Linked DNA regions of Homo sapiens: all the other regions are linked to region 1. Evidence: fine-mapped expression QTL. A gene starts in region 1. Each other region holds a variant in brackets. All regions are shown on one strand. Distances are from middle to middle.

The links. PIP is the estimated chance that this variant, and not a neighbour inherited with it, causes the effect. A credible set is the group of variants that fine-mapping cannot tell apart.
Region 2: its variant is the best candidate, but not a certain one, in a credible set for the expression of WWC3 in whole blood (TOPMed, PIP 0.69).
Region 3: its variant is the best candidate, but not a certain one, in a credible set for the expression of WWC3 in whole blood (TOPMed, PIP 0.71).

What each region holds. Positions count from the first base shown.
Region 1 is chrX:10,009,388-10,020,563 of GRCh38, forward strand. WWC3 (WWC family member 3) reads left to right here and starts at 5,867. Exons shown (of 24, transcript NM_015691.5): 1 at 5,867-6,286; 2 at 6,289-6,471. The coding sequence starts at 6,192. RefSeq lists enhancers at 3,982-4,865, 4,866-5,749 and silencers at 5,570-5,739, 5,780-5,839.
Region 2 is chrX:10,101,121-10,110,708 of GRCh38, forward strand. It overlaps WWC3 (WWC family member 3), which reads left to right. Exons shown (of 24, transcript NM_015691.5): 10 at 8,658-8,900. Among named protein-coding and RNA genes, the nearest start is that of CLCN4, 51 kb to the right of the region's middle. RefSeq lists enhancers at 8,299-9,016, 9,017-9,588. The variant A/G (reference allele first, on the strand shown) is at 5,858.
Region 3 is chrX:10,080,416-10,091,591 of GRCh38, forward strand. WWC3 (WWC family member 3) reads left to right here. Exons shown (of 24, transcript NM_015691.5): 7 at 10,356-10,485. Among named protein-coding and RNA genes, the nearest start is that of WWC3, 71 kb to the left of the region's middle. RefSeq lists an enhancer at 2,471-2,971. The variant G/A (reference allele first, on the strand shown) is at 4,912.

The DNA.
Region 1 (11,176 bases):
AGCTACTCAGGAGACTGAGGTGGGAGAATCACTTGAGCCTGGGAGTTGGAGGCTGCAGAGAGCCGTGATCGCAGCACTGCACTCCAGCCTGGATAACAGAGTGAGGCCCTGTCTCAAAAAAATAATAACAATACATTATACATATCTCATAGGGTTTTTTTGACCTCAGCACTGGTGTCATTTGGGGCAGATCATTCTCTGGTGCTGGGCTGTTGTGGGCACTGCAGGATGTGTGCCAGCATCTCTGGCCTTACCCACTAAATGCCAGGAACCCCAGTCTCCCAGTTGTGCCAAGCAAACATGTCTCCAGGCATTGCCAAATGTCCCCTGGGGGACACCATCACCCGCCCCCCCAGTTGAGTCACTGATTATATAACAATCATCTTGGTTACCTGTGTCCAGAAATGGTTCCATTCATGTTACAAGAGAGGCTAATTTTAATGCTAGTGTCACCAAATGAAAAACAAAGATTGCTCATTTCTGAGTGAGATAAATTTTCCTTCTTGTCTCTGCAAGCCTGAGACTTCTGAGCTGCTCTGCCTGGCTCATAAAGCAGAGGTCTGTAGTTTTAAGGATCTGTTTTTCCAAATACACAGGGGACCAGAGCTCTAATCCTAAATAAGAGAGAAGCCAGCCAGGAGGAAGTATCTTGTAGTGTGCTGGCTCACGGCTGCTGCCTCTTCCTAAAATTATGGTGTGCTTAGAATACATTTTGAATTGGCCCCTTCACATTTTGTGGAACAGAACCCATGGGAAGGGGAGGAAAATAAGTAAAAGTGTAAGGCTGGAAGAGGAGACCTGGAGACGAAGGAAGTGAGTGGCTCTGAGTTTTCTAAGTTTGGGAGAGAAATTGGTCTACATTTTTAAAAAATCTGAATTTTAATCACCCAGGCACAAATGCAACGTGCTTAAAGCATGACAGCCATTCACTGATTCCAAGGATGATGTTGTTTTGTGATGCGCATCCAGACACGGGAATTAAGCGCTAAAATGAACCAAACGCAGACTGGCAGGTTTATCCACACAGTGGACGCTTTGGGAATACCCTGCCTGTCTTTGGAGTGGAAGATTAGGACATGAGAAAAACCTGAATTTTCAAAATGGACGCATCTACACAAATCAAGGAAGTCCCAGTTGAGAAAAGTGCCCCCCGTCCACACACGAAATCTAAACAGTGACTTTTTTTAATACAAGTCAAATAAGTGTCTAAAGTTTACGTCTTTACATAAAGCCATGAAATAAAACACCAAGAAATAACCTCACCCTGTCCCCATTCCAACTCCTGAGCCTGGGGAGGGTCCCCTTAGGGATCTTTGCAATTTACCCTTCCTTTGATGCCCCTAAACCAGCAAGACAGGAATGAACAAGAACAACATCTAATCTCCTCCAGTGCTTGTGGATTTGCATTATTTAAATATATGAGAAACACCCATAATTGAGTAATTATTCTAGCATTTAAAGAATGCCAAACAATGAACCATTTCTTCTTCAGACCTAATCCGGCCCATTTCCGTTTTCCTCTTAGCACAATGTGTAGAATTACCCAATGTGTCGCTTCCTAGAACACTTGATTGTTTATACAAGGTAGGCAAGACTTCTCTGGCGGTGTTTATTTTTCTCATTTTACACTTGATGATTGTAGCCTTTACAGATTTTCCTTTTCTAGACGCTTATCAAGTACTGAATGTGTATGGATCCAATTTTGCACTTTCCTTTTTACAAATAAAGCTTATCCTTTAGGCGAGGGCTGGGGAGAGAAGGCAGAATCTGATAGTAAAAATCTTCAGACTCTGTCCTTGTTGGAGTTACTCCTTAACCATCATTTTAAGGAAAGTATTCTGCAAGTTAGAGATCAGTGCATTGTAACAGCTTCAGAAAGGGGATTTCCCAGAGGGTCTGGGAGGAGAACAAAAGCATTTGCATCTCCTTTCCCCAGAGACTAAGTGGATTTTTCCTGAGCTGCTTTTCCATGTGAAGTCTTGGTGGGAGGATGGAGCACTACACAATGTTCGTGCTTTTGCTGTTGGCCCGGCTGTGGTTTTAATGCGGAGGAAATAAAGAATGTAGAATTGTGCATTCAGTTAGGACTCAAGACTCCTTCGCCCTGCAGTGTTTTGTGTGTGTGTGTGGTTTTTAGTCCGATGTGGAAAGCCCCACTTGACTGTAAGAAAGACAGGCCTTATTCTAACAATTCACACACACACACACGCACACACACGCACACACACACACACAAAGAGAGAGAGAGACAGAGAGAGAGAGAGAGAGAGAGAGAGATCGATCCCAATTTATGGCAAAGCTGGGAAGTCAAGAGTCCCTTCACACCCCTACCAATTTCTCTTCCTTTCCATCTCCATTCACAAGTCTTTAGGGACCATCAGCAAACGCCTGGGGCTAACATTGCACACAAGTGGAAAAGGACTAATGGTGTAATAAAGAGGTCTTGGTCACCCCAAGCGCTGGCCTCTTCCTCTCTGGTTCAGCTCCTTTTAGGAAGACAAATGCAATAGCCCCACTTCTGTTCTCTCAGGCAGAGAGTGTCCAGAGGCAGTGGCTGGGCATGTGGATGAAGTTTTCTCAGTGAGGGTCTCCAATCTCTCTTCTCTGGCATGCTGTGTCACACTTCTTTTGCCTCTATTAATGTGCAAATGAAAGTAGGAATGCCTCTAGATGTTTTGGTGATTAAATGAGCTCGTATTTGCTAAGTGCTTAGATGACAGTAAGTGTGCAGGAGCCTATCTTAGGTCAGGCTCTTTAGAAAGGGTGCCTGAGACGGGGGTTCTCGAGTGAGCGGCTGATTGGAGGCATGCTTACACGAGTAAGGGAGGCGGGACCGGGCAGGGGAGGAGCTGGCAAAGCTATGATTTCCAGAGAAGTACAGCCTCAGCCTGATCCCATGGGGGATCCCATGGGGAGCTCTGGGGTGTCAAGGGCATTCGAGTTTGTGTCACCAAGGCAAGGAAACTGGACGGTCAGCTCCTGGGGCTGGGTGTAATCTCTCAGACATCTGTGTTAATGAAGGGTCATCTTCACAATACTCCAAAAGAAGGGAGCCCGCCCCAGCATCTGCTATACAAGTAAACAATTTCATGACAGCAGCTCCATGTGCCAAGGGGCAAGAGCTCAGAACTTGGGAATCTGAACATCTGAGCCTCAGTTTCCTCATCTGAGGCACCTTCCCTTTGGTCTCACAAAGCCTCCCACGAGTCCCCAAATTGAGGTTGGCACCCTGGCTTCATTTGTTGACAAGTGACAATTGTATTACAAGGGCCTATTTCTATGTTTAGTCCCCAAGGGAGTGCAAGCTGAAGCACAGACTATCCTCTTCCCTGCAGCATGCCTACACGCAGCACAGTGTCTGCGCGTGGGAGGTCCACTATTTGCTGCCCGCCTGAACGGGTAGAAATCTTTCACCTTCAGTGAAGACTCCTCGGCGCTGGCCTCTTTGAGCTCCTAATTGGATGCAGTTTCCCCCACTCCTTGCTCTACCTGATGCTTTTTTCATCTTGCCTTTCCTTCTGAGTCCTTTGATGTGTGGTGTATGTGTTCTCCTCTTTCCACTCTCTCTCTGCAGAAGTCGGTTTCACTCCAATACGCCCCAGCCCCATTCAAAGTACTTTCGAGTGATAGATTTGTGTCCAGATTTGTGAGATTCTAAAAGGACCAGGTGACAGGGAGGGTGGAAATGCAGCTTCAGAACGGCCATGTTGGGTGGTAAGGTAAGAAGGCAGTGGCAGCCCCACTGGCGATAAATCATGCCAATCGGAAGGGAAGATGTCAGAGCAGGGACACTCAGCACTTGGGGCATTCCCTGGCACATGCGACATCACAAAATATGTGCTTTTTTGACCCTCCCACTCTTTCCCTTGGACATGTAATAATCACACATGTTTAAAAGGACTCATGCGGTGGAATTTCTCACATAGAACATTCAGGTAGGGGTAGATAGATACTTGGGGAGCAAGAAAGTTTCTGTGTTGTAGTAGGAGGAGGGAGAGGAAAGACCTTCCTTGGATAGTTTTTTGGACGTCGCTATACCTTCACAACTTCACATTCTTCTTCTTCTTCTTCTTCTTTTTTTTTTTTTTTTTTTTTTTTTGAGACAGGGTCTCTGTTCCATCGCCCAGCCTGGAGTGCAATCGTGCAAACACGGCTCACTGCAGCCTCGACCTCCCTGGCTCAAGTGATCCTCCCACCTCAGCCTCCCAAAGTGTTGGGATTAAAGGTGTGAGCCACCGAGCCCGGCCCCACATTCTTCTAATTTTTTTTTTGTTGTTGTTGAGATGGAGTCTCACTCTGTCGTCCAGGCTGGAGTGCAGTGGCGCGATCTCAGCTCACTGCAACCTCCCAGGTTCAAGCAGTTCTCCTGCCTCAGCCTCCCGAGTAGCTGGGATTACAGGCGTGCGCCACCATGCCCGGCTAATTTTTGTATTTTTAGTAGAGACGGGGATTTCACCATGCTGGCCAGGCTCGTCTCGAACTCCTGACCTCGTGATCCGCCCGCCTGGGCCTCCCAAAGTGCTAGGATTACAAGCGTGAGCCACCGCGCCCGGCCCATTCTTCTTTTTTAAAACAACCTTTCCCCTCATAAAAGTAATATTACCATTTTACAAAAAATTGGAAGGCAAATCATTTTTAAAAATCCCGCCAAAGGAATGCAAACTCTTGTGAGCATTTCAGGACATTTTCCTCCAGTCTCTTCCCCTGTGTATCTGGATTTCAATCAGGCTCTACCAGATATTTTTGTATCACTGTAACTGTTTAAAAATCTCCCTGATACTGTCCTGCATTTCCTGGCATAACGTGTTGCGGCTGTGGGTCTGGGGCACGAAGTAGGTGGGAGATTTAGAGCAAGACACAGCCCCAACTCTGGAGCTTCAGCTTCCCCAGCTGGGAGCCAGTGAAACAGAAGTTCCCGTCTAGGCTGAAAGTTTTAGGAGTTGACCCGGCTTCCTCCCCAGCAATGGTCTACTTGGGTCTCCGCTCAAACGATCAGACCCCACAAACCGGATGAAGCGCTCAGGGAAGGTCAAGGAACTCCCGCCTAGTGTGGGCCCCCAGGTTAGCCCTTCTAGGGCTGTCCTGGCGGGGACGCAAAGTGGCCACCTGCCCAGCTGCCCGCTTCCAGAGGCGTCCTCCCTGCGCCGCCCGAGAGGACCGGCCGCGGGCTCCCCCAGCTCCTCAGCTCCCTCGGCCCCGCCTTCAGGGGCTTTTCCCACCTTCGCGGGACCAGACGGGTTGTGTGGGAGACCGAGGGCGCAGCCTCCCGCCAAGTGCGCAGAGGGTCTCCAGACAGCCAGAGCCCGGGAGCGGGTGAAGGGAGGGCACTGCCCGCTCTCTCGGGAATTGTTTGCGCCCGAGGAGTCACCCCAGGCAGGCCGCGCCCGCAGTCCGGGTAGGGCGTCGTCCTCCCCGCCCGCCTTCCTCTACGCGGGGGCCCGGGGGCGGACTGACGCGGCGGCGCCCATCCTGGCCTCCATGCGGTTTCCCGAGGCCGGAGGAAGGTGGCGGAGCGGGAGGGAGAGAGCGAGGAGCGCGCGGAGAGGGAGGACGGCGGAGGGGGAGGAGCAAGCGGAGGGGTGGGGGTGGGGTCGAGGAGCCGAGCGCCGAGGAGGACCCCGAGGGAGACTGGGGGCGGAGCAGCCGGCGACGGAGAGGCGCGGAGGACGCGGGGCCGGGGGAGGCGGAGCAGCGGGAGTGGGTGGAAAAGCAGAGGCGGCGGGAGGAGCGGGAGCCTCCGTGGGAGATTCGGGAGGAGCAGCCGGCGTGGGTGGAGCCGCCGGCGTGGGAGGAGCCGCGGGGCCTGGGTGAGAACGGGGCGGGACGGCCGGAGGCGGGGCCTGCGAACGCCCTGCCCCTGCTCGCCCGGGCCGCGCCGAGGAACGAAGATGGCCGGGCGCGCCGCGGGAACGGAGGGGCGGCCGGCAGCGGCGGCGGCGGCGGCGGCGGCTCCCGGGCTGTGACTTCGCGCGCGGCGGCCACCCGGGCTACCTGAACGGAGTGGGCGGCGCGGGCAGCGGCTTGCTAGGGCGGGCGGGCGGACGCCGGTGCACGGGCGCCGGGCGGAGGATGCGCCAGGAGCGGCGGGCGGCTCCCCGCGGCCGCCCCCGCGCCCCGGGCGCCGGGCCTTAGTGCTGGCGGAGGAGGCGGCGCGCGCGGGGCGGCCGGGCGGCGGCGGGGCCCGCGCCGTCATGCCTTGGCTGAGCGGCGGCCGGCGGCGACGGCGGGGACAGCCGCGCGAGGCCCCGCGGGAGCCGCCGCCTTCTGCGCAGCCCCAGCGGGAACCGCGCCGCCGGCGCCCCCCGCCGCGGTCCCCACGCCCCCAGCTCCTTCCGCGCCGCCGCCGCGGGCCCGGGAGAGCGCCGAGCTGCCGCTGCCCGCCGGCTGGGAGGAGGCGCGAGACTACGACGGTCGCGTCTTTTACATTGACCACAACACGCGCCAGACGTCGTGGATCGACCCCCGCGACCGGTAAGCGGGCCGGCTGGGGGCGCCAGACCCGGCGCGGGCGCTACGACCCGGGCCGCCGGCCGGCGCCACCGCGGATGCGCTGGGGACACGCCCCGCCCAGCGCGGGGCCGCCGCCGAGAGCCCCCGGGCCCGGGCAGAGCTCGGAGCGCCTCCATCCCCGGAACCAGGGGACTCCCTGGAGTGCTCCGGTCCAGGCTACGATCGAGGCGCCCCCATCCCTTGGGCCCAGGGAGAGGATCGGAGACACCAGGAGGCCCTCGGGGCTGGGTGAAGATCTTTGGTTCCGGGGGTCCGGGAGAGGATCCACCCTCCCAATACCCCGACTCCCAGGGCTCTGACCAAGAATGGAGGTGCCCCTTCTCCAGGCCTCGAGCCCTCTGAGCGCCGAGGCCGGCCGCCTACAGGTCCCCCGCCGCTGGGCGGACCCTCTCATTCGGTTCCCTCACGTCACCCGCTGTCCGGCGCCTGGGAACTGGGCTCCTGGAATTTCCTCTCCTGGGGCTGACAGATGGCCCTCTTTTCCTTTCTCTGCGGCAGCCTCGCCCATCCCGGTCCCGGGCGTCTGCGGCCCACTGCCCCGGCCCTGGTTCTGCAGGTGTCCCCAGCCCCGCGGTGGCGAGATGAGCTGTCACCTTGGATCACAAACGTGCGCCCCAGCTTTGGGGTGCGGGTTCCCTGTCTGGCGGGTTCAGGCTGGTTTCCATCCAAAACCTGATGTCAGACGGGCCCTTGAGGGATTCCCAACCCTTTTGGAGTTGGAGAAGTCTGTTCCCAAACTCTAGTTGCTCTTTAGCGCCTTAAAACTCGTGAGTTAAAACTGTTTGAAATAGCCTTCTGTACTGCAGCCAGAATGCAATATGATTAGTCCCATATGCTTTTGGAATAAACGAAAAACAAGAATTGTATTTTAAGTTTCCTTTTTGTGAAAGATATGCATGGGGTACAAAGCTGTCTTATTCACGTATAAAAACCCAATCAAGTAAAAACTGATTCTTGTAAAAGCACTATCAGATTTCATTTAATTAATTCCATGTAACGAAGCTCTTCCTTAACTTTTTGCTCGATTGTCTACGGGTTTCGATTGTTCAACTGCTTTTACAGAGATGTATTTTGTGTGGAATTGGGATTTCTGTGGACATCAAGTGTTTCCACAGGTTATCTGATGTCTTGTCCTCTCTAGAGCAACTCTCCTTCCAGGGCCTGAGTGCCAAAAAGGAAACACCACAGGCTTCCCAGTGATTTGAAGACTTGCAAAGGCCCAGTGTGGTGACATTGTGCCTGCTTCCTCCTACCTGCACAGGGAAGGCGGCCTGCATGGCACTGGCGTCTGAAAATAAACTTTTGAGGAGAGAAGCTGCTGAATTGTTTGAAGATTTCTCTGAGTTCAAGCAGGGGAAAACAAAAGAAAGCAAAACAAAAAGATCGTGATTCCCTAACATTCTCGCTGAACATTGCAAACCTCTGGGCTCAGAAACCTATATCAATCCTAGTACAATTTTATGGGTTAAAAAGATGCCTAGTTATTTTGAAAATCAGGTGAGATCATGTTATAATTTTAACCAAAGGCTAGAGCCCCAGCTGTTTGATCAACCCTTGGATGGTTCTGGAATTGGTAGAACTGCTTGGAATGCAGTGCCCTTTTATACCATATGTATGTTAAAAACCCAAACAACTGGAAAATGAACCAATTAAAATAGTGTTTTGCTTAGAAAAGGCTAAGGCTCACTTTCCAAGGGTAATATAAAACAGTTGTGGTTATATTGGAGTGGAGATTCATGCTGAAAGATATCAATGTGAGGATTTTCTTTTTAATGGTGTAACCTGTGACAAACGTGAATGGACCATACAGAAATCAGCTTGGAGAATCTTGTTTTCCATGTATTTCAGACACATTTCCTATATTCCTTTTTTCCAGAAATCGATTTGTTACTTTTCAGACAATCACTTAAAGGTTTTTAAAAAGTCTCCGTTCTGATGCTAAAATTGTCAATTGAGTCAACAAAAGTGGATATTTTACCTTTTTTTTGTAAAGTAAAAACGTGTGTACTTTTATGAGACGTTGTTTTTATAGTGAGTGAAAATTCAGCAGGGGACAGCTTGAACTTCAGCTCCCATAATACCTTGCCCGAAATATGTATGGAATGTTCAGCAAGCCACAAACATTTAAGTGGAGTCGGCTGAAGGCTGTAATAGTCATTCTTCTTCCTCTTTCAAAACAGAACCTGGCCGAGTTTTATAGGTGGCGGGTTACCCTTTAAAGTTGTAATTAACTTTTATTATATGGGAAGAACTGCATGTCAGAGGGCAGTGTTTTCTCCATGCGCATCTGACAGTTAAAACCCTTTTTGAGTTGCTTTTGAGTCACACAGGAAAATGGTATTCAAGAAATACGAGGACTTTCACCAAACAGCTTCCACATAGAGACCTGACAGGAGAAAGGCAAATACATAATAGCTTTTTTTTTCTCTTTAAGAAAATGAAATTGTGGTGGAATAAATGAATGTAGTAGGTTAAGTGAAAATTGTTGTTGACTTTAAACATAATTTCATATAAACTTTAGTAAAAACTGTATAGCATAAAATATGGTCCAAGGATTGTAAACAAAATCTCTTCTTGAGTTTTATAGTAATTCCATTCAGTGTTGTGTTTAACATTTGATAGTGCCGGCTCAGAGCCTGTTGGTGAAATTATTGTAACTGCTTTTTAAAGTTACAACAAAGAAGATACAAGGAGACGTCTTTACGGATGTGGCTACAGATGTATACACAATCTCAATATTTTAAAAACAATTTTTTAGTTTGATTATAAGCCTACCTTTGGTTGGCTGGGCGTGGTTGCTCATGCCTGTAATCCCAGCACTTTGGGAGGCTGAGGTGGGTGGATCACTTGAGGTCAGTTCAAGACCAGCCTGGCCAACGTGGTGAAACCCTGTCTCTACTAAAAACACAAAAATTAGCCGGACGTAGTGGTGTGCGCCTGTAGTCTTAGCTACTTGGGAGGCTGAGGCAGCAGAATCACTTGAACCCTGGAGGTGGAGGTTGCAGTGAGCCGAGATCGCGCCACTGCACTTCAGCCTGGGTGACAGAGAGAGACTCTGTCTCAAAAAACAAACGAAAAAACCTACCTTCACTTTAAATTCACTATTTCTATAGATTGATACTGTACATATAATTTTCATAGTTAGTTTACTGGGAATCATACCCAAGAACTTGGTTAAAAACTACAAAGTTAGGCCAGGCGTGGTGGTTCATGCCTGTAATCCCAGCACTTTGGGAGGCCCAGGGGGCAAGATTGCTTGAGTCCAGGAGTTCGAGACGAACCTGGGCAACATAGGGAGACTCTGTCTCTACAAACAAATAAAATAATTACGTGGGCGGGGTAGCGTGCGCCTATAGTCCCAGCTACTCAGGAGGCTGAAATGGGAGGATTGCTTGAGCTGGGGAGATCCAGGCTGCAGTGAGCCGTGGTCATGCCACTGCACTCCAGCCTGGGTGACAGAGTGAGACCTTGTCTCAAAAAACGAAACAAAACCCCACACCAAAAAAAAAAAGAAACGAAAAAACAAACTACAAAGTTAACTTATTTCTATGGCTGGTAGTTTCCTTACATGAGTCTTGTGTGGTTTACATTAGTGGCACACTAATATCTTAACTGAATATATTAACTCAGAATAACTTGACCACCTTATGAAAAGGTATTTACCATTGGGCAGAAAATATGGGAAGAACATTTTTGCCCCCTTTGTAAAGATTCACTGTCTTTGACAGTTGTGTTTACGTGTGTGTCTTGCAGGGTTATTTGGGTATTATCCTATAGATGGACTGAGTGTTTGAAACCTCATGTTCCATTTCCTGTAGCTCAGGTGGAGTTGTACGGTACTGGAAATGCCAGCTCTGGGCAGCTTAAGTATGGTGGACGATACCATATTTGAGATCAAAGTATAAATAATCATGCGGATGGCGGAAGAGCAAGATCATGTCATGGCATAAGCTTTTGGGGACCCATTTGTTCACCAGATGGGATTTGACCTGTGCTTCATGGAGGAATTCTGTGGTATCTTAAAAGTCTTCTGAAGATGCTTTTGCTTTAAGAGGAAAACAATCCATAGCTCTGGAATTTGCTAGGTTGGATCCCCATTTAACAGCCAAATAACATCATTGCTACCTTCTTGGAACCTTTATTTAGTTATTCAGTATTAACTAATAGGAGGTTTACTATATTCATCCCACAGAGTCTATTTTTGGACTATATAAACTGTCCTGGTTGAGCTTTCTGATAAACAGGTAATGATTTCTCCCTTTTTCTTTTTTTAAGGTTATAGATAGTGTTTGTATGAACATGGGGGAGCATCTTGTTTTTAAGGCTGTAAGGGGTCAGTCCCTGGAAGAAGCGGCTCTTGCTTCCATTTAGATCATCAATCCTCATTTTTTGGTCTAACATTTTTTGGTCTTTTCCTTTCCTTCCATTTATTTGTTTATTTATTTATTCATTTATTTATTTTTTAAAGAAAAGTGAAAGGAAAAGTAATTCATTTCCAAAAATAGCTCCTGGATGTTTGGAAATCTCCAAGTTTCCTTCTCCTTCCTTTCACTCTGATTTGGGAAGTGGAAATAACACGTATCACCATCTCTAGTTAGGTTCTACTTCAGGAGCCCATGGGTCAGGAACATGTTCATGGTCATCTGGTGAGCCTACGGTAGGCTTC
Region 2 (9,588 bases), 91 kb after region 1:
CTGTAAGGGAATAATAGGTGTTGCTTTAAGCCATTAAGCTTGTGGTAATTTGGGGCAGAAAAGAGCAAACTCATACAGTGCCCTTGGCCTGTTCTGTCTTCTCTGTCTGGAATGGGGTGGCTTTTCTCCAAATTGTCACATGACCTCTCCTTTTGATCACCTTGTTAAGAGAGGTTTCCTTGACCATCCTGAATAAAACCTCACCACCCTGTCCTCACCCCGGTCCCCCTGATTGGCTGAGCAAATGTTATTACCTAACCAGTGTTTACTTTTCTTACTGCCTGTCTCTCCCTGTGAAAATGTAAATAACCCTCATGAGTGCAGGGATTGTAGGTCATTGCTGTAAGCCCAGCAGCTACATACTTGGTGAATATTTATTGAATGAGTAAATGAGGGTCCCGTGTGGTTGCATTTGCTATTTGGCCTTTGCCCCTGGGACGGGGCAAGCCAGGGCAGTCCCGGGGCCAGGTCAGCTCCAGGCCAACTGCTCTGCTCCTGGGTCCCTTCCTCAAACCTCCATCCAGGTGTGAGCCTTGGGGTCTCTCGCCTTGACTTGAGAAGGGAAAGGGCTTCAAGACATGGGTGCCTTTAGGGATCTGAGGTAGGCAAGGAACTGTCTCTCCCTTTCAAGGACTATGTTCAAGGTGTGATACGTCAACACACCGAGCTAGACTAACAGTTCTGGGCCTTCATGGACATTCAAAAGGGCTACTAGCCTTTGAACTCCATAATTAATCCTCTCCTTGGGGGTTGGAGAAAATGGCATTGGAGTTGGGTCCTGAAGGAGTGCTGGGATTCCAGTCGCCGTCCATTGGGGATGGGCTTTCTCAGGTAAGAGTGGGGGTCAGGAGTGGGGGTAAGGTGTCACTCTGCAGCAGCTGGACTGGCCTGGAATTGCAGAGCAAAGGCCAGCCAGGCTGGAATGGAGGATGCATGAGCAGGGAGGCAGGCCACGGCATGGGGGCCACGATGCCCCGAAGAGGGGTCAGAATTGCTGGGCATGCTGGGACGTTTGAGTTGGAAAGATTAAGTGTGAGCCATTCAGATGGTGGTATGTGGAGGAGGGCCATTTGAGGAACCCAGATGGCATAGAGATGAAGTCACCGAGCAGCTGGGCTCACCTTGGGAGATGGAACACAGGGAGAAAAGAGGAGATGCCAGGACTGAGCCTGAGGAAGTCCAATCAAAGGCCTGGCGAGGACGAGACTGGCCAGAGGGGTGTAGTAAAAGGTCCGAGAGGGGATGGCTGGGGCTGGAGGAAACAAGAAGAGGAAGTACACCTGAGAAGACACTTATGTCCACGGGCCCAGTGGCTGTGAAGGAACGAAAAGGGGGTGGTACCGTTGGCCGACAGGCAGGCCTCTGCTTCCCAAGCCCAGCCTGAGGTGTCCTTAGTCCACAGTGCATGGGAAAAAGGAGGGCCAGCGGCAGGTGTTCCTAAAGCCAACTCGCTGCTTTCCAGTCAAAGAAGCCTCTCATTCTCAGAGATACATACATATGTACATACATACATATAAATATATATAATTAATATATGTTTTATATATATTTAATACATATTTATTGTATATTTTTATATATTATATTTATAATACGTGTTTAATATACATTTTTTCATATATATTTTTTTCTGTTAAAACATCTTTCTCTTAATTAACTAATGATGATCATTGATGTGAATTGGTTTTTTCCAAAAGTCTTTACTTGGCAAAATAACAAGCTGGCAGTCCTAAATTGTTGCCATCAGCACATCCCCTTTCTTAAATTGGACTGGCCTGGGGGAAGTGTGACTGAGATGGTGCTCTCCCTGGAATTAAAGGAGAAGGATGACCCTAAACAGGGTTTCCAGAGGCTCACAGTAAAGTGGAGGGTCATTTGAAAGGCAGATCTTGGTTTTGACCATGAGTTTGGTGTTTTCAGTGGACTTGAAGCTGCTGAGAAACATCCATGAAGTGTTCTTGTCGGTGGAGTCCGCAGTGGAGATTGCAGTTCGCTGAGTCATTGATTGCAGCTCCCTCCGGGCTCTGGTTCCCAGATGCGGCGGTGCACGTCTCCAGTCCCCTTGGTGTGATTGTTTCTGCCTCCAGTCATTCCACATTGGTTACTGTAGCTAAGGCTTGACCAGTAAGTGCATGCCTGCCATGTGAACTACTCAGCTGTAGGTCACATAACCCTTAGCAGCCTGGGCAAGGCCCTAGACTTTACATACCTTGTAGCGTTGTCAGGATAGTCTTGGCTCCCCTCTGCCCCATCCCTGTAGACAGATGGAAGGCTAGGAAGGGTTGATGTTATCAGGTCTCCCCAGCACCAGATGAGCGATTTCATTACAATGGTGTTTTCCGAGTGTTCTGATGGACTGCCTCTAAGTGAGGCACGAGAGTAGAACGATACAGACTTGGGGAGAGAGCAGTGGCAAGTGGTTCTCTGGCAAGAACTCAACATTAACATTCCAGGAGCCAGGTGCTGAGTACCACAGGCAAAGCATGGTGGCTTTGAGGTCCCGTCCATGGTCTCTTCCTCGGCCCCCTTGATCAGGCTGGGAGATAATGTCTCTGATATCCCTGTGAGCGTCCCTGGAGAAGTGGTGTGCCATGAGCAGGAAGGCATCATGTACCCCCATCAACCCACCAAAGCATGAAAAAGAACACGTTGCTCTTAGTGGCAGTGTTAGCAAAGAATAATGCGTTCTTCCCTGCTCCCTCATTCCAAGCCTAAGGGACATCATGTGCCCTTTCCTCTTGCCCAGGTGAACTTCTATTAGATTAGTGCCACAATTCAGTGTCGTCTTTTCGTTCTGCTACTTCGCCGTTGGACATTAATCTCCCAGCTCTCATTCCTGAAATCATTTCACCCTGCAAGCTTACCTTCCCTACTGTATTAGGTTCTGCAGAGAAACAGAACCAACAAGAGTAGGGGTAGGGAAGAGAAGGGAGAGAGATTATTTTATTATAGGAATTGGCTCACGCAATTATGGAGGCCAGGAAGTCCCACCATCTGCAAGCCGGAGACCCAGGAAAGCCAGTGGTCTCATTCAGTCCAAGTCTGAAGGCCTGAGAACTGGGGGTGGGGTGGGGTGTGGAGTGGGGTGGGTGGGTGGGTGGTCATAGTGTAAGTCCCAGAGTCTGAAGGCCTGAGAACCAGGAGCTTTGGTGTCTGAGGGCAGAAGGTGGATGTCCCAGCTCAAGAAGACAGACAGAATTCACCCTTCCTCCACCCTTTTGCTCTATTCAGTCCCTCAATGAATTGGATGGTGCCCACCCACATTGGTGAGGGTGGATCTTCTTTGCTCAGTCCACTGATTCAAATGCTTATCTCTTCCAGAAATTCCTTCCCAGACACACTCAGAGATAATGTTTGTACCAGCTATCTGGGCAAGCTTTAGCCCAGGCAAGTTGACACACAAAGTAAACCATCATGTATATCCTCTGCAGAACCTCCTGTGCTTTGCCACTTCTGAACAGTGGAGGATTTTATGCCTTAGGCATTTTGGACGTCTTTCCTTGCACATATATATTTGAGATTATTTTTAAGATGTGGGAAATTGTCAAAAATGCCGAATTCTGGACAATGAGGGATTTCATATATATATATACATTCAGATTTTTTTTCTTTCCTTTTTTTTTTTTTTTTTTTGAAGACAGGGTCTCGCTCTGTCACCCAGGCTGGAGTGCTGGAGTGCTGGAGTGCTGGAGTACAGTGGCGTGATCTTGACTCACTACAACCTCTGCCTCCTGGGTTTAAGCGATTCTTGTGTCTCAGCCTCCTGAGTAGCTGGGATTACAGGCACGTGCCACCATGCCTGGCTAATTTTTGTATTTTTAGTAGAGACGGGGTTTCACCATGTTGGCCAAGGCTGGTCTCGAACTCCTGACCTCAAGTGATCCACCCACCTCAGCCTTCCAAAGTACTGGGATTACAGGTGTGAGCCACCCCACTCAGCTGGATTTCATATATATTCAGATTTAAAGGAAGTTTGTGGAAGTGGAACTCATAATTCTGAGTGGTGATGTGATTTCTAGAGAATTCTCTGGCCAAACGACCACTATCATGATGACTAGTTTTGTGTTTTTAACTGTGGGTCCTGTGAAGCGTACCAAAAGGACTGCTTGCACCTTGCCTCAGGAGCGCCTCTTCGGATTCCCAAGGCAGACCTAATGATAGGAATATTCACACTATTGATTTTAAAATTTCAGAAATTTTAAAAGTGAAGTTGAAAGAGCAAGTCTTCTTGAAGCAATCCCGATGACGCAGATGGCTCCTTATTTTTAACTTAAGGGCGCTTGTTCCAGAACTGTGCACAAACTGTAGCTGTTACCATAGAAACACTCTCAGTCCAGATAGGAACAAAACATTCGGTCCATCCAGTTTCTCTGCCTCTTAGTTTTTGTTGCCAGGATCAGTCCTGCTGTTCATCAGTTGTCGAGGATCAGTGTAGTGTTATGATTCCAGTTGAATTTGATCAATCACTTGGATTTTTTCATTTCTCAAATGACTTCCTATCTGGGTTTTAGGGGTGGGGCACAGTTGTGAGAAATAAGGAAAAGCATCTTTGCCACTGTGGCTCTGTCTTCCCTATTCTGGTCAACACGGAGAAGCCTGTAGACTCACTGCTTTTTATTTGATGAAGTTGCTCTCTGAAGATCTGTCTGTTGCAAAGGGAGAAGATGTCAGGGCTGGGAAGCTGAGGACGGGGTGAGATATTGGTGTATTAGTAGACCTTTCTTATCCCACATATTCTAGATTCAGACTTCTCAAACTTCTGACATAAAGAGTTGAGTAGAATGGACGCTGGTTTAGTTCAATCAGCTGAAGTGATTTCATTGTCCATCTGACTTACATCTCAGCTGTTTTCTTTAACCTTTGCTTTTTATTTAAATGGGTATTTACAACAAGAAAACTAAGAGAAAATGTAAGGAGTATCGAACCTGTAGCCGTAATTGCAATCTGAAGGTATGAGGCTCTAAGCTGACCCCGCGTCCTGGAATGTGCCATTGGGATCCCTCACGACTCATCACCATGGGATAGGACCGTGGGCTGTCCAGAGTTCTGCTTGCTATTCCAGAAAGCAGCAGGATTTTAGGACCATGAGAAATGATATTGTAGACTGCAGATTTTTGGTATAAATTCAAATAATTAGGGATTATTCTTGATATGCCTCAGAACTTTTTATTATTGAAAGTGCATTGTTTTCCTATAAAAATGCAAATCGTATTTAAGATTTTCATGTGAATTGTGAGAGTCTAAATAGTTTCTGCGGCATAAATGCATGGTTTAATGGTGCCTGGGTTGTAACAGAAAAGTGTTTGAGCAAAAATCATAAGGGAAAAATGATTCATATTTTATGTCTGTCTACATTAGACCTGCTCAGGGAATAGAATTTGGGAAACACATAATAAATAAGAAACCTGCATGCTTGATTGAACATTTGCTTTCTTCACTATCAGGACACGGGGGCATATATTTTAAGGCTTTTAAAGGCATTTGGGAGAGATTTTATATAGGCCATAAAATGCATTACCCCTCAAAAATAAAAATCACTGAAGAATATAGTTGGCTCACAGAAAAAAAAAAAAATCCTCTCTAATTTTAAGCTGCTATTAGTTCTCTTTACAAAAAACTCGGGAAAGTTATTTTGTTTTGCAAACTTTAACCATGACCTTGCTTTACTTCCATGTATTTAATTTCACTGAAATGATATTTCAAAGAAAAGCCTTTCTGGAAATTGTTTTTCCTTTAATACCCAAAATTGGAACAACAGCACTCACAGGAGCGAGGCTCCAACCAGTGGATCAGCTGTTTGGCGTGGATGTAGAAGAAGGTGCATTGAAACTCAGTACATCTGTGTTTAGCCTTAGGC[A/G]GGAAGTCTGTTTCTTCAAGTAAACCTAACGTACTAAAGATACTCCCTGCAGATGGCTCGTTTCCGGCCCACGGCAAGGTAGACAAGTCATACGGTTTTAAAGGCAAAGCCGTCTTGTCTGTCTCATGGGGACATAAGAACAATCGATTGTTGAAGGAATCCTAGTGCTTTTGGCTTCCAGTACAGACAGACAGACAGATGTGCCTCTCTCGACCTTGCTGAAGCAGGCCCCAAATGTTCACACCTAGAACATGGGGACAAAGAAAGAAATTGAACTTTTCAATATGTTCCAGTTTCTTCTAGATTCATATATAGCTCTGAAATGAAGATGAGATTGTTTGCATTGTTGCATTGTTTTGAAATTTTATTATTAAACCCCACAATTGGAAGGCACAGAAATGTTTGCCTAGCATTCAGCACAGCCCAAACATTTCCAGATGGGTTGCAGATTTTGTTTCTGCTGGAGAGGTCGTCCCTTGCCGTTTGTCCTTGCATATTTTTCCTGCCAGCTGTGGGAAGTGACAGGACATGGTTTAATTTGGGCTGCTGTTCTGTTTCTTTATGCCTGCAGCAGACAGGTCTTTTGAAACTCACCCTTTGCCTCTCCTCCCTCCTATAATTCATTTTTTTCCTCATTCTTTTTTTCCTGACAGTGCATATTACTTGAGATTTTCCTGGAAAGGTTGTGATTATCTGGAATTGGATCTTCCGCCACCTTCAACAGCTTGAATCCTTGTAGGCTAGCAGCTAACCTAGAGCTGGCAGACTCAAATGGAATCTTGATCTCTTCATATTTAAGGCTCAGAAAACTCAAAAGGAGTGTTCTGTAAAATACTTCTGTTTATATTATATGTATGGTAATTAGTATGAGTATAAAATGGTCGGGCAAAATTTAGCTGGGCTCAGACTTTCCTGTGGATCAGATAAATGGAAATGAAAAAAAGTATGAGGACACAGATTTGCTGATTGTTCTTCATCTTTTATATTTATTTCTTAACTTGTCTTGGTCTACTGTAGAATGTTCCAGAAATGTCATTGGGTATAATGTCTGATTTAGCACTGACTTATTTGTGGGTTTGCTTGGAGTGTATTTTCCTTGGGCTTTGGATATATGACTGCCATAAATTTTAATTACACTAATTAGACGTAGGTGGATGCTTAAGCCCAGTTGGAGTCCTAGCCCTGTTCAGCTGCCTCTGTCATTAGTTTTTCTGGTGACATGGTTTGGCACCATCTTCCAACACGTTTTCCAGACATTAGTTTTAAGTTAGAAAATAACTTGTCTAATAAAGCTACTGACATTCAACTAGTGTCTTTACCTTGTTGAAGTGGACTTGAGTAAAATGCATACATTTAAACTGTAACTTGTGTACCCGTTTCTTTCCTTAACTGTGGGCTTTCAGATTCGTTTGGTGGCTAGAGAGGGAGTCATGCCCGATCCTCATGAGTCCATGTGCTCGTGTCTAGTTTAGGTGGAGCCTGACTTGGCACAAGGCTGGGTGGCAGGTTTTAACATGTGTGGCAATGCTAGTCAATTGGGGATATCCACATGGCTCATAGTGTAGAGAAGGCTTCTGAGGTCTAGACCCAGCAGGTGGGAAGCCAGCCTTGGTTAGTGCCGTGGACCGCGGGCACAGGAGGAGGCAGTCTCAGGAGCACCTCTGCCCTGCATCTCCCTCGGAGGATATAGGGCCACGTGTGCCTGCCACTTCCCTGTTCTCACAGCTCTTTGTGATCTCAGAGAAGCCTCTGGATTTTGTTTTTGGGCGAGTATGCCAACTATGTCCTCCACAGCATGGGGTTCAGGTTGAGTTTGCCATTCCTAGTTTCTCCCTAGAAACATATCCCTGATCTTTAACCCTACTTAAAGGGCTTAAAACATTCTACTCTTACTTTTAAAGGATGCTTTAAAAATACAGGCCACATCTGTTTCACTTAATCTGCATTCAACAGCACCTCATGACACAAAAAGTAATGCAGTCTGTTTGCCAAGCAAGCACTTGGAAATTTCGAGGCATGGAAACTGATAGGAGCCTCTGTTTTTCCACCTTGAGGATTGTTGCGCTTTGCATCCACCCAGATCATCTCTCACCAGCATCCATGCTCACAGGGCTGCCTCTCTTCCTCTCACATATTTGCAGGCGTGTTTGTTCACTGTTCAATGCACTCAGCTTTTGTCGAGTGCCCACTTGCTCTCCGCAAGGTGTTTTGAATTCATGTATGGCCAGGGGCTCTGGTGCAGGAAGGAGCACACAGAACCAGAAGACGCGGAGCATGGGGCTTCGAAGGTCTTTCCTTCAGGACGCCAGATGATGAGTGCATTTCTCCTTTGTTATTTTGCTAAAGCGGCTGACAGTGGTTAGACACAGCTGAGGAGGCGGGAGGCCGGCAGCACTTCTGGGGGTCCAGCATGCTGTTTAGCTACTGATGAGGGTGGGCAGAAGAAACAAGCAGACTCCCTCCTGCTCTGGGACAGTTTCATGTAGGAAACCAGGAGTCTGAGCCGCCGAGTATGGGCATGTTGAGGGCTGCTGGCCTTTTTGTCAGTTCTTCGGAACAGGCACGATGGGGTTATTTTCATCTCGAATCTCAGGCTAAGGGAGCTTCAGGAAAAGACTTCTGCACCATTTTTTAGGACATTGTTTCCATATCCTTTTAAGTGTAAGGGTCACTTGGTGTAATCATTTCACTACTTATTTGGCAAAAGGAGTTTATAGAATCAGTGTGAGACGTGGAGAAGGTGTGAAGACGGCGTTTTCAGTCCGCCGATGTCCTTTTTTCCTCCCCGTCTCTCTTGCAGAGTCGCCAACATCCAGCAGCAGCTGGCCCGGCTTGACAATGAGTCCTGGCCAAGCACGGCCGAGGCTGACAGGGACCGGCTGCAGCTCATCAAGGAGAAGGAGGCCCTGCTGCAGGAGCTTCAGCTCATCATTGCACAGCGCCGCTCTGCGGGAGATGTGGCCCGGCTGGAGGAGGAGCGGGAGCGCCTAGAGGAGGAGCTGCGGCGTGCACGGGCCACCTCCGCACAGGGCGCCACGGAGAGGTGGGTCAGCGGGGACACGACCTCCAGCGGAAAGCCTGCTGGAAAAACTCCACGGGGTGGCTTGTGTGTGGCTGGAGGGTGTTCCTGATGATCACTCAGAGCCTCTCCTGCCTGGATGTTCCCTGGCCTAGGAGGGGCATGCGGTGGGGGGCACTGCCTTCTGCTCCCTGGGTCTCTGGAGCCTCTGCTCCGAAGCAGGAGGTGATTGACAAGGGGGAAGGAGTGAGGGAAGATGGGTGACCTCCATCTCCGCCCACGCCCCACCCTTCCTGAAGTTGGTGCTTGGTGCTTCCACCTGCCTTTGTGGGACAGTGCCCTGAGCAGGCTGTGGTCCCGCTCCGGCCCGGGCAGCTCTGTTGCATGGGGGAAGAATTCCCTGTTCCTGACGTGGTGAGCATGGTGGGTATCCACCTACTGCTTTCCTCTCCAACTTTGATTTCTAGCCAGGAGAGCCTGCTCTTCTCTGGCATTGGGAAGCTGGCCACCTGTCGTGCGTCTGTCCTGAGGCTCCTTCACCACGCAGGACATGCAAAGCCAGCATAGTGGCTTTGGTATTCGGTGGCACTGAGTCGTTCAGCCTTTCCTCGTGTGCCGTGTGTCCTGGTTTCCATTTGCTGTGTGAGACTGCAGATTGTGTCAAAGGCTGGGCCTGCCTTCCACACTTAACAGCAGTTTCTCTGTGGCTATC
Region 3 (11,176 bases), 71 kb after region 1:
ATCCCAGCTACTCGGGAGGCTGAGGCACAAGAATCGCTTGGCGGGCACCTGTCATCCCAGCTATTCGGGAGGCTGAGGCAGGGAGAATCGCTTGAACCTGGGAGGCCGAAGTTGCAGTGAGCCGAGATTGCGCCATTGCACTCCAGCTTGGGCGACAGAGCGAGACTGTCTCTCAAAAACAAACAAACAAACAAAAACACAAAGAATGTTGTCTTTACTCTTTACCCGCTAGATGCCAGTAGCACCTTCCACCTGTATTGTGACAACCAATAATGTTTCTAGACATTGCCAAGTGTCCCCTAAAGTACACATTTGCTCCCAGTGGAGAACCACCGTGCTGGTGGCTACTGTATTGAACACCATAGGTGACAGATTTCCATCATCACGGAAAGCTCCTTTGGACATTCCAGTCTGTAGGTCTTCCTCCTGTTCTCATTTTTACAATAAGAACGTTATCCCTACTAAGAGATTGGGGATGAATTGTTTACAATTAGTGAGCTGTATCGAGTCTGCAGGTTTCATGAACTAAAGGTGGTGTTTGAGAAATGGTGCTGGTGTGGGTCTGAAGGTTTGCTGAGCCGTTCTCTCCATTCACTGGCTTTCCTTGCTGAACTTGCGCATGTGCCGCACGCCTTCTGCACCTACTTTTCTCATCTGCAAATGGTGATTGTTTTAGGCAGCTCGGGCTGCTATGACAAATACCATAGACTGGGTGACTTGAATAGCAGATATTTGTTTCTCACAGTTCTGGAGGCTGGAGGTCCAATATTTGGTTCCTGGTGAGGGCCCGATTCCTGATATGCAGATGACCATCTTGTCGCAGTTTCCTCTCATGGCTAAGAGAGCAAAAACTCTGTTCTCTCTTCCTTTTCCTAATCCCATCATGGGGTCCCACCCTGTGACCTCATCTAACCCTAATCACCTCCCAAAGGCCCCACCTTCAAATGCCATCACATTAGAGGGTAAGGCTGCAACATAAGAATTTGGAGGACACACAAACACACAGTCCATAACAGCAATCACTGTGCTCAGTTATACTGAGGACAGCACCAGCACCTGGTACATGCCCAGCCCGAAACAATTAGTCCAACTCTGTGTGGTTACTGTTACTGACGCAGGTGGGCACCATGTTGCCGTCTTTCATCCTGCATGCAGATGCATGAGGTGACACACGTGACTGCAGCACTGCTCTTTATGGGGAGGTAATAAAGGAATGTGAGGTACAGATGTAATTATCTACCATTACCCAGCTATGTGTTTGTGTGCATTTTGGATCTACAGTCAGAGCTTCCTTTTATTAACCCTAGTTAGTATTAGCACAGCTTCTTCTTTAGCTTTTTTTTTTTTTTTTTTTAAGACAGAGTCTTGCTCTCGTCGCCCAGGCTGGAGTGCAGTGGTGTGATCTTGGCTCACTGCAACCTCCCCCTCCCAGGTTCAAGTGATTCTCGTGCCTCAGTCTCCCCAGTAACTGGGATTACAGGTGCCCGCCACCACGCCTGGCTAATTTTTGTATTTTAGTAGAGATGGGGTTTTGCCACATTTGCCAGGCTGGTTTCCAACTCCTGACCTCAGGCGATCTGCCCGCCTCGGCCTCCCAGAGTGCTGGGATTACAGGCATGAGCCACCGTTCCCGGCCTCTTCTTTAGTTTTGTCTTAAGCAAATCAAGCTTCTTTTCCAACTAACCGGCTGCTGGTTTTGTCATTCATGCGGTGCATAGGCCAGAGTGCTTTCCAAATGCACCGACGTGTGTTTTGTCCTTTTAGCCCCCCACTCCAGCCAGCCTCCAGATACTCCAACACCTCCTCAGATGCGACTGTGTGTGCTGTGGCAGTGTCATCCTGTGTCACTTTGGCTAAGGTGGTGGATAAAGAATAAGCAGAAACAAATCATTTGATTTGTGACAGGTCACCAAAAGTTATTAGGACTACCTAGTTGGATTTGAGGTGAATTTTCTACCTTCATTAGGCCACACTGTAGCTGTCTCTCATTGTGATACAGTGTCTCTGGACAATATGTAGTTGTTTGTTTTTTTTTGGTTTTTTTTTGAGATGGGGAGTCTTTGTCACCCAGGCTGGAGTGCAGTGGTGCAATCTTGGCTCGCTGTAACCTCCATTTCCTGGGTTCAAGCAGTTCTCCTGTCTTAGCCTCCCAAGTAGCTGGGATTACAGGCACACGCCACCATGCCCAGCTAATTTTTATATTTTTAGTAGAGACCGGGTTTCACCATGTTGGTCAGGCTGGTCTCGAACTCCTGACCTCAGGTGATCCGCCTGCCTCAGCCTCCCAAAGTGCTGGGATTACAGGCATGAGCCACCACGCCCGGCCCAGTAGGTGGTTTTAATGTTAGTCATTGTGTGTGCCGGAGGTTGCAGTTAATGTCATTCTCATTTGCAGCTCTGAGGAAGGTGACTGGGGTTCAGGAAGAGTCTGAGTTTGCTCAGGATCCCTGAGCATCAGCAGGGAGCCACGTCTGGCACTTCCCTCATGGCCATGGTTTCTGTAGTGGGTTGCTGGGCTCAGCGCCCGTTGCTTTGCCTTGGCTCCATCGTTCTGGTGAACTCCATTTCCTTATTTGAAGACAAAGGCCATATAGCAGTGTCAGCTGTAGATGGACTGATTTAGAAACTGAAACGTACTGCTGACTGAGAAAACCCCCTTCTCCTTAGCATGGCTAGGATGTGAATTCATCTTTTGTAGTTGCAGTGGTTTCAAGAATAGGAAAAGGCAGCCTCTGTTTCCCTAGGGGCATTAGACAGAGAAGCAGGAGCCAGAATAACGAGAATTTTAACTTAACACCTGCGGCCAAAACGGAGCGCAAGTTGTGCTCCTGGAAGAGAGGCGGGCCAGTGCTGTTTGGATTGTCTTTCTGCTTTCATTATCAAGATCCCACGCTTGGGAACAGCAATTGTAAACTTGCCACTTGCCAAGGGGAGGCTCCTCCTGTCTGCCTGAGCTCATGAGAATACCCGCCCTCCCCCTGGAGGCCAAGGAGTGGCCTGGGGAAGGCTCTGGACCTGGCCTTGGTCCTGAGGGGCCCACCCCACCTCATGCCTGACCAGGGGCAAGTTAGCTTTCAGGAGGGAGCTGCCCAGAGCTGTTGTTTAATGGGCACGTTGCCTTGGCTCTGTCTGACGCTGCGTTGTTACTGTGCATGTTTACTTTATTCTGGGACAGACACAGCCTCACAGGAAGAAGAGAAAACCCAGGCACCCGTGCCACTCTTAAAATATTTTTGTAAGTGGAAGATAATCTGGTAGCCTTTCTCTGAGTTCCACAGCTTATGAGATGAAAACAGCCTCATTATTTTTCTGGTATTGAACATTGGGTGTTTAGGTTTGGATTGAATCATGCAAATGTATATTTTTTTAATTGAGAAATTTTAGAAGGCCTTTTCAAGCATTGAAAATGTGATTACCCCATCTCTACTGGGAAATCCTGACTATACGTACAGATAGCAGGTGAGCTGTTATACCTAAACATGAAGCATCTCTGATTTTATCACCAACATTGCTTAAGGCAGTGGCCTGAGATTTTCCTCCAGAAAATTTCCTGCTGTTCTTGCTTCCCAGAATATCCAGTGTATTCTTTTCCAGAGCACCTCACTAGGAGTTTGGCTGCTTATAACATTTTAAGCTTGCCTTGTTTATCTTGGTGAATTTCCTGGCTAGCAAGGAAATTCATCATTACACTTGGGTCCAAGTAAGGAAAAAAGAACCTTTTGTATTTTACTTTAAATCTATATATGTTGTTGATTGTTGTAGAGAGGAATTGGCCACAGATATGTTCGCTGGGTTAATGATAGAATATGTACACAGATGTGTGTTTTATGTGTATCTATGTGAAGTGTACACATGTAAGCTTTTAATGATGGAAAATATCAAACACAAAAGCAGAGAGAATAGTATACTGAAACCTTCCTGTACCCCTCACCCCATTTAACCTGCACAATTGCCAATCTTGTTTCGGTGGTGACCCCACCCCATCTGCTAAGCTCTCACGGCCTTATTGAAGCAAATGCCAGAATCCCATTTAATCCATAAATATGTCTCCTAAAGTTATGGACTCCTTTTGAAAATAACTCTAATCCCTGTACCCCATTTACTAGGCATCTTGTGTCCAGTGAGCTCTTGCATTTCTTCAGGTGTTTGGGTCCAGTTTGGGCCACAGAGTGCCTTTGGTTGATGTGTCTCTTACGTCTTTTCTTTTCTACTCTCCCTCCTTTTTTTCCCCTGACAGCTTATTTGTTGGAGAAAGTAATTTGGTTGTCCTATAGAATTTCCCTAATGTTGGGTTTTGCTGCTGAAATTCACATGATGTCATTGAACGTGTTCCTCTGTCTCTTGTTATTTATGCAAATGGGCGTAATAGTTTGAGAGGCTTGATCTGATTCAAGTTGGATTTCTTTTCTTTTTTTAGTAAGAATGTTTTTAGGTGGTGGTGTTACTTCCATCAGGAGGCACCACTCTGTGCTTGTTTCTTTTTGCGGTGTGAAGATGATCAGTAGGTTCTGGCCTTGTTAGCCCAATGCTTTGATTTATATTAATAACATTTCTTGTCAGCTTTTTACCTAAGTTATGGATGTGTATCTTCCAGGATAAGTTCCTGAAAGCGGGCTTGGTAGGTTAAAGGGTGAATGTATTTGTTGTATTATAGGTTGTATTTCTTATCTGAAATGCTTAGGACCAGAAGTGTTTTGAATTTCAGTTTTTTTTTTTTTTTTTTTTTTTTTTTTTTTTTTTTTGGTTTGGAATATTTGCATTATACTTACTGGTTCAATATCCCTCATCCAAAAATCTGAAACCTGAAATGCTTCACTGGTCATTTTCTTTGGGTGTCATGTCAATGCTTAAAAAGTTTCAGATTTTGAAGCACTTTGGATTTCAGATTTTCAGATTAGGGATACTCAGCTT[G/A]TATTAGATATGGCCAAATTCCTTTGCTGAGGGGTTGCACCATTTTGCCTTCCTACCACTAACATATGAGTGTTCTCGTTTCCTGTGACTTTGCCAACAGGATGTGTTGATAAGCATTTGCATTTTTGCCAGTCTCATAGGTGAGAGATAGTATCTCAGTGTAGTTTCAATTTGCATTTTTCTTGAGGCCTTTTATAAAAGTCTTCAGAAAATAGGAGCACCATTTACAATGACTAATTAAAGTTTAGAGAAAAATTGAGCTTTTCCAGTGAAAGGTCCCCTGGACTCTGTTGCCCTAAAGTTTCTGAAACGTTTTGGAAAAATTACCTTACTGTAACTTACTACTAGTGTCCAGAGGCAAAGGGAAGACTCAGGACCAGGACACGTGCAATGTTTCCCAACTGGGTGATGTGCGTGAACGGACCAAGTGCACCAACAGATGTGGGCAAATTCCCCTCTCCAGCTCCTGCCTGGAGCTCTAGAATGTACCTTGTGTTAGATTTTTTTTTTTTTTTTTTTTTTTTGAGATGGAGTCTCACTCTGTGGCCCAGGCTGGAGTGCAGTGGCACGATCTTGGCTCACTGCAACCTCTGCCTCCCGGGTTCAAGCGATTCTCATGCCTCAGCCTCCTGAGTAGCTAGGACTACAGGTGCACACCACCATGCCCAGCTAATTTTTATATTTTTTTAGTAGAGACGGGGTTTCACCATGTTGCCCAGGCTGGTCTCGAACTTCTGGACTCAAGCCATCTGCCCGTCTCGGCCTCCCACAGTGCTGAGATTACAGGCGTGAGCCACTGCACCCGGCCCCTTATGTTAGATTCTGAGTGGTCCTGCAGCTGGGAAGCTCATTTAACATTGCCCTTCCCTGAGTTTCCTGCTCGTGTTATTAGAGCCTTTTCCTGCCATGATACCTATAATGTCCCTGAGCACTGGCTTGATGGCAGAAGATGCTTTTGGGTAACACTGCCTGGCCACCTTGTCCATGGTGTGCTGTTTCTACACCCGGCCTCTGATCCTTCTCACAGCTTCCACCACCACGGCTCTGGGCCAAGCACTAATGTGAGTCTCCATCCTCACACAGTAGCCATGGGGTTCTTCCACAGCTAGTGCTCTCCTTGTGGTCCTTCTGTGGCTCTCTCTCACCTACAACACAAGCCAGACTCTACATAGGCTGGCCCCCGGCCCTGCCTCATTTACCTCTAGTTTCACCTTTGAAAGGGATGTCCTGCCTTTACCGTGGGTACTTGGAGCTCCCTCTGCTTGGAATGCTCTTTCCCCCAGATTCTCACATGCCTGCTCCCCCACTTCCGTGGGCCTTTGCTTAGTGACATCTCGAGAGATCCTGGCTTAACCATCCATCTAAAAATGTACTCTGTCACACTCTATCCCCAAACTGCTTCATTTTTTTTTGAAAACATTTGTGACTGCCTGACCTAAGGATGTACTTTTCATTGTCTGTCTCCTTGGCTCGAATCGTGCTGCACGAAGACAAGGACTTGGCTTTGTTCGCCGCTTCATCCTGAGGACCCAGCCAGTTCTCAGCACAGGGTGGGGCTTGGGAGTGAATGCAGATTGCCCGGGTGCTGGGGGGAGTGGCTGAGGTTGCTGTTCCTGCCCGCTAGTAGCCATCACAGGGTCCACTTCTTTCTCGGACACTGGGACACTCTGAGTGAGGGCAGATGTTTCCTTGGCCAAAACTTTTGTCCCTGGGCTGGAGGAACTCAGGGAGGCCTCTAGACATTGTCCAGTCACCTTCTTGCCAACTGTCCTCTAGCACAGCATTCTCTTCTGCATTTTGTGTGATATTGTTTTGGCCTGGGTTTTAAGAAGTCCTATTATCACTGCTATTCAAATCACAGAAAGGGATGCTCACCAGATGTTCCACTAACTAGTTTCCATGAGGTACATTCTTAGCCACTAGGTGAGCCTCTGCTTCAAGACTTTTGATTTCTTGATTAACTTCCCAAATGGGGTGAAACCCATTTGTCTCCTTAAATATGAGCCACTACATCCTTCTAAGCATGCAATACCAGAATGAAGCATTACTGCATATTAGAATTAGCATTTTCTGTCTGAAGGGATTTAGTAGTTTCAAGAAAGAGTGGGATTGTTCAGTAGAACAGGCTTAAAGTAACAATCTCCCATTAGCGTAGCACCTAAGGAACAGCCCACGCGAAAACCTCGGCAATGCTCAGATAACAACAGCGAAACGTACAGAAATGGGCTGGAAACAAAAAGAGGATTGTTCCTGGTTGTGGGACAGGTCTGGTGTTCCACACAGGTCTTGCTGTTGATAGAAAGCCGCCGGAAGCTTTCTGAGGTTCACCCAAGGCCGTCTGCCAGAGCTGCTGATAGAAAATGTAGAAGTTGTAACAAACCTTTCCATTCTTCTGGGTTGTAATCTGTGGTATTAACACAGAATATCTTTAGAGGGCTGGCAGCTCTTTCCTTCAAGATGTGGGGTTAAGAAGTTATGTGGTTTTACTCTTATTTTTCCTAGTGCAGTTCTCTTGACATCTTAAATTGAACAACCAATATGGAAATTTTAGGGTGGCAGGAGGTAGAGGTTGACAATAAACATCTCTAAAATGCCTTTTCCATTGTACTAGGTTCCTCATCTGAAGCTGTATCTTCTTCTTTTCTCTCCAGCCCATTTCTTTCAAAAGCACACCATAAAGAGCACCAGTTTACTTTGGGATGACATTTGACTGGTTATATGGGTGGCCTTCAGGTTTGACACAATGGGCATTTAGAGGCCTTGACTTTGAATATATTGCGAACCTGGTGATGGAGCAGACAAGTCCTGGTGTGGGGGGCCTTGGCTGTGAACTTCACTTTGCCTGTTACTGGCTGTGTGACCCTCAGCAAATCACTTAACGTCCCTGAAGCTGAATGCAAAATGTAGAGGGTGCAAAAGTAAAGACTGTGAGTCTGTGCACTGAATTTTGATTTCATACTGCATAATAACTCATGTCCTTGTTTAGTCTCCTTGAGCAGTTACCTTTTCTATCATTTTATTTGTGATGTATGGTAAAGGCACTGTCTTGCACTCTTAATTAAAATTAAGACCAGAATAAGGCAGTTCTTTGGCAGTCACAGATCTTATGATTTTTTAAACGAACTGGAATACATCAATATTTTTAAAAAATACCAAATCATTGAGCACATCATCTACATTGGACCAAAGTTTTTTAGGGAAGTTTTAGAGAGAGAGAGTGTGCTCTCAAATAAATGAATTTTACAGAAGTAAAAGAAGACATTTACTGTCCTTTGAAGTTTTTGTTGGATGAAAATGGATCACAATTGAAAAAATGGAGGTGTTGTGAAGCTATGACAGCTAAGAAAGTATAAGGTAGCCCTTCCATGAATATCCCAGTGAGTTACGAGCAGTGAGTGAGAAGGCCAGCCATTTTGATGGAAGTGGGGCTGGTTTTGAGGGACAAACAAAAGAGTTTTGAAAATGTACAATGGGTTTATATGCCTACTGTCACCATTCTTGCTATTGGCTCCCACGTTTTAGTAGCCACCAACTGGCCTGCTGGTACTGTGCTGGGAACTTTTTCTATTTTATTGCCAAATCTCCCGAGGACCCTCAGGTGATGTAGACTGTTAAAGTTTACCACCTTGATCATTTGGATGAACTGTTTTGTGAAAGAAGGGATTTAATGAGAGCAGAATAAAAAGAAAAAATATGCCCACAGCTCAAACTTTAGTTCATGCTCACTTATTTTAACTTTTGGCATGGAATACTCTATAGTTAAAGATACGTGTACCTTTTAATAAAGATGTATAAATAAAGACTTCTGCTTTGTAGGAACAGACAAGGCAATGTGTATTTGAGAAACCTACAAGTCTGTAACAGCCATTATGGAAGTGCCTGCAGGGTCAGGACACGTTGGCATTTAGGAGTGTCATTATTCACCATGCACGGTGTGCCTCTATCTGCTCTCCTCGGGGCAGAACTCAGGACTAGTGTTTATAAATATTTTATTTGTAGCTGATGGCAATCACAGCAATGCTGCCGAGCCCCAGAGCCCTATTCAAAGGGAGTCAATGGCTTCCTGCTTGTGTTGTTTGCCCTCTTCCTAGGCCATGGATGCTGATAGCTCAGGTTGACTCTGGTGCCGAGTTTTGCTTGAGTTGTGACATATTTGGCAAGGAATTTGTTAATGATAATAAAACACCAGAGTTGGCAAGTTATTTACTTTTTCTCCCATGAGTAAGGAGATTCTGTGTTATCCTGATAATAACAGTCACCGCAAACACCATATGCCAGGCCTCCTGCCAAGCAAGCTCTTACCTTGCATTTTCTCATTAAATCTCATGCCCATCCCATGGGAGAAATATTTTTAGTGTCCCCATTTGAGACAGGAAGAAGCAGGTGGAAAGAGGGGAAGTGACTCACCCAGGTCCCACAGCCAGTGAGTGGCAGAGCTGGGTGCCACTCGCACCCACCAGCATGCCAGAGGTTCCTGTGAGCGGTAAGCAAGGGAGTTGGGGCTGGCAGTTAATGATCCAGGTTTTCAGGATAACATGGAGGGAAATGTTAGAACCAGAACCTGTGAACTGGGAGACTCGGAACCTGAAAGAAGCCAGTTGCTTTCCAGAGAAGGAATTCATTCCACTCTGGACCAAAATTTCTCAAGTTCCTTAGCCTTAGGGCTTCCCATGCTGGAGCCTCAGGTGTAGGGGATGTGACAAAGGACATGCTCCAGAGGCCACCTCCCTTTGAAGGCAGAACCAAGTCTTGTTTTGTTCTGTGCTCTGCGTCCAGCCCCAGACCCAGGCCTGGTGTGTACAGGAGCTGGCTGGGAGGATGGAAGCTTGGAGGAAAGGTGGGAGGAAGGGGAGGAAGGAGGGAGGGAGGGACATTGCCATTTTCCCTGGATGAGTGTTTGGATTGAAGGAAAGAATTGAGGACTTGGTAGGAGAAAGAGTGAGTAATAAATTAGAACCAGAATGAAATCAGAGTTATAGGAGACAGAAAAGGTTTCCAGCTTTTGTACAAAGCACCATTATCGAAAGCTCACTACTTCTTGCTGTGTCCCATATATTCTCCCTGTACACAGATCTCATTCATATGTTTATTTAACAAAGATTTTGACCACTAACCTGGAGATAAACAAAACATGTCCTCTTTTCAGAGAGAGGAATTTACAGTCTCGGGAAATTACTCAAGCAAGCAATCTTGTTGCGCAATCATTAGCGGAGGACGTGGGCATCCTGTCTCGGACGTCTTCACCTGCCCAGGGTGCTCCTGAGCAAAGGGTGTTGTATCGACCAGAAGGAGGGACGCTTCCGTGGGGTCTTTCTTTTTCTTAGCCAAAACATTACTTTAACTGTTTCCACCTCTCTATGAAGCTTTTGGGTTTTCGTAGTTGTATGTTTAATGGAATGCTAGGATCTCATGTGAAATGACATTGATTTTTCTGTTTTAACTAGGATTGATCGGAAGATGTCAAGTACTCACACCAGCTACAAACTGGATGAGGCGCAGGCTATCATGAGTGAGCTCCGGACCATCAAGAAGGCCATTTGCACAGGCGAGAAGGAGAGGCGGGACCTGATGCATGTAAGCTGCCTGCCTGCTCATGTGTTTTATTTTAAGATGTTTTTAATATACTTATGTATTACATGTTATATAGTTATTGTATATATAACATATATGTGTATATAATACACACACACACACACATGCATACATACATACGCACCCCCCACTGTATTTAAGTACGTATATAGTCATCCCTCTGTATCCTTGGGGGATTGGTTCCAAGACACACCCCCATCCCTCAGGATACCAAAATCATTGGATGGTCAAGTCCCTTATATAAAATGGTGTAGTATTTGCATATAACCTGCACAGTCCTCCTGTATACTTTTCTTTTTTTTTTTGGAGACAGGATCTCTGTCACCTAGGCTTGAGTACAATAGCACAAAAATGGCTCACTGTAGCCTTGACCTCCCAGGCTCAAGCCATCCTCTCACCTCAGCTTCTAGAGTAGCTGGGACCACAGGTGCGCACCATCATGCCTGGCTAATTTTTATATTTTTAGTAGAGACAGGGTCTCACCGTGTTGGCCATGCTGGTCTCAAACTCCTGGCCTCGAGCGATCCTCCCGTCTCGGCCTCCCAAAGTGCTGGGATTACAGGCATGAGCCACTCTGATTGCTGCCTCCATGGTCACATGACTGTCTCTTTGTCTGAATTTCCTGTTCCTGTAAGGACACCAGCCATTGGATAACGACCCACCCTAATCCAGT